Regions from separate parts of the Homo sapiens genome. Here region 2 is linked to region 1. A link means that fine-mapping ties the variant in region 1 to the expression of a gene that starts in the linked region. Tissue or cell type: monocytes. Region 1 holds a variant in brackets; the other region holds the start of a gene. All regions are shown on one strand. Distances are between the middles of the regions.

What was found. PIP is the estimated chance that this variant, and not a neighbour inherited with it, causes the effect.
Region 2: DBNL starts here. The variant in region 1 is the best candidate, but not a certain one, in a credible set for the expression of DBNL in monocytes (TOPMed, PIP 0.86).

The regions. Positions count from the first base shown.
Region 1 is chr7:44,087,763-44,092,000 of GRCh38, forward strand. No RefSeq gene overlaps it. Among named protein-coding and RNA genes, the nearest start is that of POLM, 7.4 kb to the left of the region's middle. The variant G/A (reference allele first, on the strand shown) is at 2,208.
Region 2 is chr7:44,042,463-44,046,700 of GRCh38, forward strand. It overlaps DBNL (drebrin like), which reads left to right and starts at 2,240. Exons shown (of 13, transcript NM_001014436.3): 1 at 2,240-2,358. The coding sequence starts at 2,276. LINC00957 (long intergenic non-protein coding RNA 957) reads left to right here. Exons shown (of 3, transcript NR_072982.1): 3 at 1,791-1,834. RefSeq lists a silencer at 2,280-2,499 and an enhancer at 2,438-2,938.

The DNA of each region.
Region 1 (4,238 bases):
GTGGTTAGTAGAATTGTGGGTGATTTGAACATTTTTCATTTTGTTTGTACTTTCTAAAATTTCTGCAGAGGGCATGGATTGCTTGGAAGCAGGCAGGGAGGGAAGGAACATAAGTTTTTGTTCTCATTTTGTGGACGAGGAGCCTCTGTCTGAGCGGCAGAGCCAAGACACACACCCGGCCTCCCCTCCTGGCTCTGAGTCCGGAGTTCTCTCTGGAGATGTCCACGGTGCCTGCTCAGCCTGCTCCATGGCCTCCCCTAGGAGCACAGGCCCAGGGAATGCTGTGAGAGAGGGGAGGGTGAAGGCAGGCCTGGGCAGCAGTGGGCAGGGCCCTGGCCTGGGTGGGTGGGTACCACAGGCTGCTGTCAGGAAGTAGAGACCTCAGCCCTCTGTTTTGGGTGAGCTGTTCCAATAAACTTGGCTTAGGGATTCCCAGAAGTCCAAGTCCTCAGCCTCCTGCTCCCTCCTCTGACACTGCCTCCCAGAAAGTCAGGAGGCTGCCCAGCCACCCTCGTGGCGGGACACCTTCCGGCCAGGCTGGGCCCTTTCCGCTGCCCTGAGGCTGCAACCTCCCTCCCTGCTCCCACCGAGCCATGACTATTCCTGCCCATCCCTTACTTATGTTTTCGATTATTTTTGCCCAGATTGAGTTTGCATTTTTCCAAGATGAATCTCATCTTGCTGTTTCCTGTTCCCACTTTCAGCTCTAGACGTCCCTCGGGGAGATACCTCAGTGCCCACGACCTTTGCACCCCCCTCCCCACCTCGCCCCCGCTGTGGCACACCTCTCTCCAAGCTCCCTTTGGTGCTGTTTCCACCCGTGTGCGTTCTGTCCAGAGGCCTGCGGGGACCAGGACGTGGCCCTGCTTGGGGGCCTGCCCCTGCTGCCCTGGTTTCCTCCCTCCCGTGGGCTGCTTGCCAGCAGCATTTGGGAGAGTGTGTGGCCAAACTGCTGATGCTGCTGGCCCTGAGCTCCTGAGGGCTGTTGGCCCCAGCAGTGCTGGCCCTGGGCCTTCTCTGATCTATTCCTGCACATTGCTGTGGCTAAGAGTAACCTGGTATATTTGTATCCCATGACCGCTATAACAAATTATCACAAACTAGGTGGGTAAAAACAACAGAAATTTATTCTCTCCCAGTTCTGGAAACTACAGCCAAAACTCCAGCTATCAGCAGGGCCACCCTTCCTTGAAGGCTCTAGGGGGGATCCCTCCTCGCCTCTTCAAGCTGCTGATGCTCCTGGTGCTCCTTGGCTTGTGGCAGCATCACTCCACCCTCTGCCCCGCCTGCAATGGCCTCCTTCCCTCTGGGCCTGCTCTGTGTCTGTCTTCTCCTTCTCTCTCTCTTTTTTTTTTTTTTTTTTTTTTTGAGATGGAGTCTCGCTGTGTCACCCAGGCTAGATTACAGTGGTGCCATCTCGGCTCACTGCAACCTCTGCCTCCCAGGCTCAAGTGATTCTCCTGCCTCAGCCCCAACCAGTAGCTGGGATTACAGTTGCCTGCCACCATGCCAGGCTAATTTTTGTATTTTTAGTAGAGACAGATTTTCACCACGTTGGCCAGGCTGGTCTCGAACTTCCGGGTTCAAGTGATCCACCCGCCTCAGCCTCCCAAAGTGCTGGGATTACAGGCATGAGTCACCATGCCTGGCTGTCTTCTCCTTTTCTTATAAAGACACTAAGACACTAGTCATTGGATTTAGGCTTTTTTTTTTTTCTTTTTTTGTCATCCAGGCTGGAGTGCAGTGGCACAATCATAGCTCACTGCAACCTCATACTCCTGTGCTCAAGTGATCTCCAGCCTCAGCCTCCTGAGTAACTAGGACTACAAGCGTGTGCCACCATGCCTGGCTAATTTTTGTATTTTTTGTGGAGATGATGTCTCACTATGTTGCCCAGGCTGGTCTCAAACTCCTGGCTTCAAGTGATTCTCCCACTTTGGCCTCCCAAAGTGCTGGGATTACAAGCATGAGCCACCTTGCCTGAAAGACCATCCCAACTCAGGATGATCTCATCTCAAGATTCTTATTTTTTTTTTCCTTTTCTTTCTTTTTTTTTTTTTTTTTTTTTGAGATGGAGTCTCACTCTGTCACCCAGGCTGGAGAGCAGCAGCATGATCTTGGCTCACTGCAACCTCTGCCTCCCATGTTCAGGCAATTCTCCTGCCTCAGCCTCCCAAGTAGCTGGGACTACAGGCACATGCCACCAC[G/A]CCCGGCTAATTTTTGTATTTTTAGTAGAGATAGGGTTTCACCATATTGGTTAGGCTGGTCTTGAACTCCTGACCTCGTGATCCACCCACCTCAGCCTCCCAAAGTGCTGGGATTACAGGCATGAGCCACCGTGCCTGGCCAATATTCTTATCTTAATTACACCTGAAAAGACCCTTACACCAAATAAGGTCACATTCTGACATTCTGGGTGGAAATGAATTTGGGGGGCCACCCTTTAACCCGCTGGCCTGAGTCCCACTTTGCCAGGGATCAATTCTGGACTCTGTGACCTGGGGCAAGTGGCCAGCCTTTCTTTATTTGTGTAGATCCATCAGAGCTGTGGGATTCGTATTTTTGACAGTAGATGCACTAGTGGCTTGCCTGGGACCTGGCTGGTTATATAACAAAAAGAGACGCTTTATTTTTGAGAAACCATTACTGCCTTTTAAGGAGTGTGTGCATTGCCGCTTGCTGGATGGGTTCCATATAAGAACCGGTGGTGGCGGGGGTGGTGGGGAGAGGGTAGTTGGAAGCCTGGGACAGGACTCGGAGTGGGAAGACTGGGCCAGAGGTCCAGAGAAGAATTCCCAGCTCCCTGCCAGGGGATTTGGCTGCAGAATTCCTTATGGAGGAGCGAAGTGTCCTTAAAATGAAGGCTGTTTGGGTTCATCTGTTTAACCAGCCCAGGCTCAACCAGCAGTTCAGGTATGGCTGGCAATGGTGAAGGGTCCAGGGGGCTAAGAAGGCTTATGAGAAGAGGGATGTTTGCTGACCTCAACTCTACCACAAGGTGACAAAATTGTCCACTGTTTCCATCATGAATTATTTCATTTAAGTTAAGGGAAGACTATAATGTCATTACATTCCTGGATAAACAGACCCAATGTCATTTATTTAGTATTTTCCCATTTGCCACTGTCATTCTTGAAATAAAATAGATCCAAACATGGGGAGTTCCATTTATTAGCACCAAGGAGAAGCCCTGGGCTAGAAAGTTGCTGGAAGCCCCAAGGCTGTCATGGATGCTGTTTCTTGGGATGGAGAGTCCTGAGAGGCTGGACGTGCTGCCTGGTACATGGAAGGTCAAGGAGGAAGGAGGGTTGGAAGCCAGGAGTATGGCCATGGAGGGAGTCTCCAAAGTCCTAGTCAGGGGTGGAACCCAGACCGGAAGTTGGGGTAGAAGACAGGGATGGGAAGTGACAGCTGCTAACATTTATGGAGGGCGAGAAATAGGCCAAGGACTGTGCTAATTATTTTTTATGCTGTATTTTTGTTCTTTTTCCAATTATATGGAATTGGCACTACTGTCATTTTTTTCTATCTTACAGATAGGGAAACTGAGATTTTGAGCTAAAATAATGTTGCCAAAGTAGTCACACGCATAAGAGGCAGAAATGTGATTTCAACAGTGGATATTTGACCACAGAGCCATCCTCCTAACCATTCACCCAACAGAAGTGTGTTGAGGCGCGGTGGCTCACCCCTGTAATCCCAGCACTTTGGGAGGCCAAAGGGGGCTGATCACATGAGGCCAGGAGTTTGAGACCAGCCTGGCCAACATGGCAAAACCCCATCTCTACTAAAAATACAAAAATTAGCCAGGTGTAGTGGTACATATCTGTAATCCCAGCTACTCGGGAGGCTCAGGCACGAGAATTGCTTGAGCCCGGGAGGCGGAGTTGCAGTGAGCCGAGTTCACACCACTGCACTCCAGCCTGGGCGACAGAGTGGGACTTTGTCTCAAGAACAAACAAACAAACAAAAAGGTGTGTTGTGTGCCTGGCTTTCTTCTAAGTGCAGGAGGTATAGCAGATAAGACATACAGAAACCCCTGCCTCATGACATTCCTGTGGGGCAGGACAGACAATTCCCTAGGGAGGACATGGCCTATGCTGGGTATGGTTGGTTATAGCAAACATGGCTGCAGGAGTCCCTTCCATCTGTGACCCTTCCGCAGAGTGACTTTGATGCTTCCCCCAGCAAGAGATGGGGTTAGGCCTCCCCTTGATTCTGGGCTGGCTCTGGGACTT
Region 2 (4,238 bases), 45 kb before region 1:
ATTTCTGTTCTATGTAAATTACATAGTCTGTGGTACTTTGTTATAGCAGCACAAAACAAACAAGACAACAAGCAACAATCATGTGAACAGAAAGAAAAATGGGCATAACAAATGAACCATGTTTTTGTCCAAATTAGGTTCACAAGCCCTTATCTGCACCATCCAGACTCAAACACCTTAAGATTTTGGTAGTTCATTTGGTAGCAAAAACTGACCTTAATTGTCATGAGGATATTTAGAGTCGTCTTATATTCCACTTAGCTGATTATTCACACATATCACACACTTAGCTGATTATTCACACATATCACAGCAAAAGCATGAACATGTCTGATTACCAGTTCCTGTCCAGATCCTGTGATAAGGGCTTACCCAGGACATACATGGTATAACTTTTCTGAAATCTTAGATTGAATTCCAAAGCACATCTGGACTTAAGGGATTGTGGATATATACATATATATACTATATGTATATATATACACATATGCATATATATACATATGTGTATATATATACATGTGCATATATACATATACATATGCATATATAATATATGTATACATATACATATGCATATATATACATATGCATATATACATATACATATGCATATATACATATGCACATATACATATACATATGCACATATATACATATGCATATATACATATGCATATATACATATATGTATACCTATACCTATGCATATATATACATATATGTATACCTATACCTATGCATATATATACATATATGTATACCTATACCTATGCATATATATACATATATGTATACCTATACCTATGCATATATATACATATATATGTATACCTATACCTATGCATATATATACATATATGTATACCTATACCTATGCATATATATACATATATGTATACCTATATCTATGCATATATATACATATATGTATACCTATACCTATGCATATATACATATATGTATACCTATACATATGCATATATATACATATATGTATACATATATACACACATAGTATATATACATATACACTATGTGTGTGTGTATATATATACACATATATATACTATGTGTGTGTATATATGTATATATATACTATACTTTTTTTGAGACAGAGTCCCGCCCTGTAGCCCAGGCTGGAGTGCAGTGGCGCTATGTCGGCTCAGTGCAAGCTCTGCCTCCCTGGTTCACGCCATTCTCCTGCCTCAGCCTCCCGAGTAGCTGGGACTACAGGCGCACGCCGCCACGCCTGGCTAATTTTTTGTTTTAGTAGAGACGGGGTTTCATCGTATTAGCCAGGATGGTGTCGATCTCGTGACCCCTTGATTCGTCCACCTCGGCCTCCCAAAGTGCTGGGATTACAGGCGTGAGCCACCGTGCCCGGCAGGATTTATATTTTAAGGAGGCAGGGGAGTTATTCTCCATGGGAGGAAATAAGCCGTGAGCTGCCTTGCGCTTTGGCATGTTTCTCTATCATACAGATAAGAAGCTAGTTCAGTCAAGTGTATGCAGATTTGTGGATGGAAAAACTGGTGCTCCCAGGAGGAGGGGAGCAGATTGAGGAATTACTGACACCTTCTAGGGGCGACCAGCCAGATGTGCAGGTGAAGCACAAGACAGGTTCTCTTCATGCCTCCACTATCCTGGCCTCGACCAAACTGCAGAGGGAAAAACTCAGGTGAGAGTGAGAAAGCACAGTCACTTTCAGTTAGGTTTGTAGCGGTGTGATCGTCACTTAGCACTCATTTATTCGTGTATTCATACATTTATGCATGTTTCTTTCACAGATCAAACTGTTGAGGGTCCACAAACAGGCTGAAGACCTCGTCTGGAGGGAGACTGCAGTGAACCCAAGATCGTTCAAATAAGCGCATCGACATAACAAGATTTAGAAAAGAATAAGCACGGTGCTGTGAGAGCAGCTAGCGGGGGCTGGACTGGGTCCCTGCGGCCAGGCTTCCAAGTCGAGCTGCCGTTTGGGTGGGACCAGAAGACGGGCTAGTCTGCGCCCCAGGATCCCTCCCTGAGGACAAACAGAAGGCCGGGTCCTCCCTTCTCCCGCTTGTCCTTCGGCATTCGCGGGACCTGCATGCTAGACCAGCTGGCCGGACAGCTCGCTAGGACCCGCGGGTGCGGCTGGCCCCTACCATTTCCGCTTCCTGCCGTGGGGCGGGGTTTCCGGTTGTCGGAGGCGAGGCTTGTCGGCTGTCAAAGGGGCGGCCCGGCCCGGCCCGGAAGCTACAGCAGCGGCGCGGAGACTGCGGGGCGGGCCATGGCGGCGAACCTGAGCCGGAACGGGCCAGCGCTGCAAGAGGCCTACGTGCGGGTGGTCACCGAGAAGTCCCCGACCGACTGGTGGGCGGCGAGACGGGCCAGGGTCGGGCCAGGGGCTGCCTCAGGGGTGGGTCTGTCTGGGGCGAGCGGGGGACTCGGGGGGAGCGGGAGCGCGAGCGCGGAGCGGTGCCCAGGCAGGTGGCCTGGGGCTTACCTGTCTGCCCCTCCACACCGCAGCAGGAGTGCTGTCTCACCCTCGTGACCCCTTGCCCCGCCGATCGTGGACAGGTTAAACCCGGCTTGGGGGGACCCAGTGAGTCCCCGCCCCTCCCCCTGTCGCTCGCCACCCACTGTGGGCTTCGCGGGCTTCCATGTTGGATCCTCGGCCTGGTCGTGCTTGCTAGCTTCGCCAGGTTCTTCTTTCCAGTCCTGGGACTTCCCTGGAGAAGGGGTTCCTGCACAGCCCTCTCTGAGAAGGCGGAAGCCACGCCCGGTTTTTTTGCAAACGCTGTGTTCGGGGATGGGCATTTGAGAGCGGCCTGGCAGCCGGGCTGTGAATGTGAGCCCTGCCCTGGGGGCTTCAGACGAGGAGCTCAGGGATCTGGGTTCTTGGCTGTCTGTGAACGTGGACTTCAGAACTTTCGTTTCTCCAAAAAGTGTACTCTTTCTTGTGCCTGAGCCATGGGAAGATGTACGAAAGTAGGATGCTCGCTATCTATTTGGGAAAAGGTCCCATTTTCCCTCTACCACCCAAGATATCCTCACTTTCCTCTTTGCTTAAATTGTTTTTACTGACCAGTTTTGAGAAATCCCAGTTCTGAGAAATATGCTGAGTATGGTGGGCTAAGGTGACCAACTTTGGGGAATAGAAACTGGGCCTTGGAGTCTGAGTCGTGGTGGGGCCACACTGTGGTCAGCACTGAGGCCCTCCCAACTGTCTTCCCCTTGTGTGGGGGCCATCTCCACTTGTGTAAGTGCTTTCTCATCTCCTCTGCTCTCCGTAGTGCCCAGCACAGAGCGGCTTTTATGCAGTGTACTATTGTGACCCTGAGGATGTTATGGCTTTGCTTTTTCCTCAGCCCTGGGCCATTAGGGGAAGAGCTTTAGAACACCAGTTGCTTGGTTCTATGGGGTCTCTGTAGACTCTCCTGTCAGGTCTGAGTGCCCTGGATGGCACTTATGCCAAACAGCACATCTTCTGTTTTGGAGGCATCTAAAGAAGGATATCTCGTCATTTCCTTGGTGGGGTTTTCTGCCTGCTTTATAATCCCTCAGATTTACCCACGTCAGTCAGTGTTATTTTTCTCAGGAGAGTTTCTAGATGTCAGCCCTCTGTTTTGCCTCTCTCCTATTCCTGTTCGTGTTTCTCTTAGACCTCTCCTGTTACTTCAAACCCAGTCAAAAGTATCTCTGCAATGAGTGCCCCATTTTCATGTCCACATCATACCACTTGGCTTTAGAACCCAGAAGAATCTTTGCCCCTCTTCAGCCCTGCCAAATTAAAGATTTTGCTTCTTAACATGCTCTTGATCACTCTGTTTACCCTGGCAGACTTACCTAGGAGCTTCCTGGCACTCCTCATCTATCTCCCTTCCAGGTCTCTCTTCATCATCAGTCTTCTCAGGAACCATCACTGGTTTGGGATGATGCCTCCCAGCCCACCTGGCAGTTTGGGCTTCCCTCTTCAGACCTCCTATGTTCCTAGCCTTTCCTTGGGCTGCTTACGAGAGCTGTCTGCTACCACTCCTGGCCCGGTGCTTACCCACCCCATCTACTCTCTGTCCCTCATGAGGGTTGTGGAGCCTCCTCTTTCCCCTCATGAAGTCAGAACCCACCCATCTCACTGGACTCATCTGCCCAGACAGCCATGCTATGCTCCCTCCCTACCTCCAGGCTCCTGCAGCACTACAGGTTGTGTCACTCAGCAGCATAACCCACTGACCTCCACCCTCATCGTCACA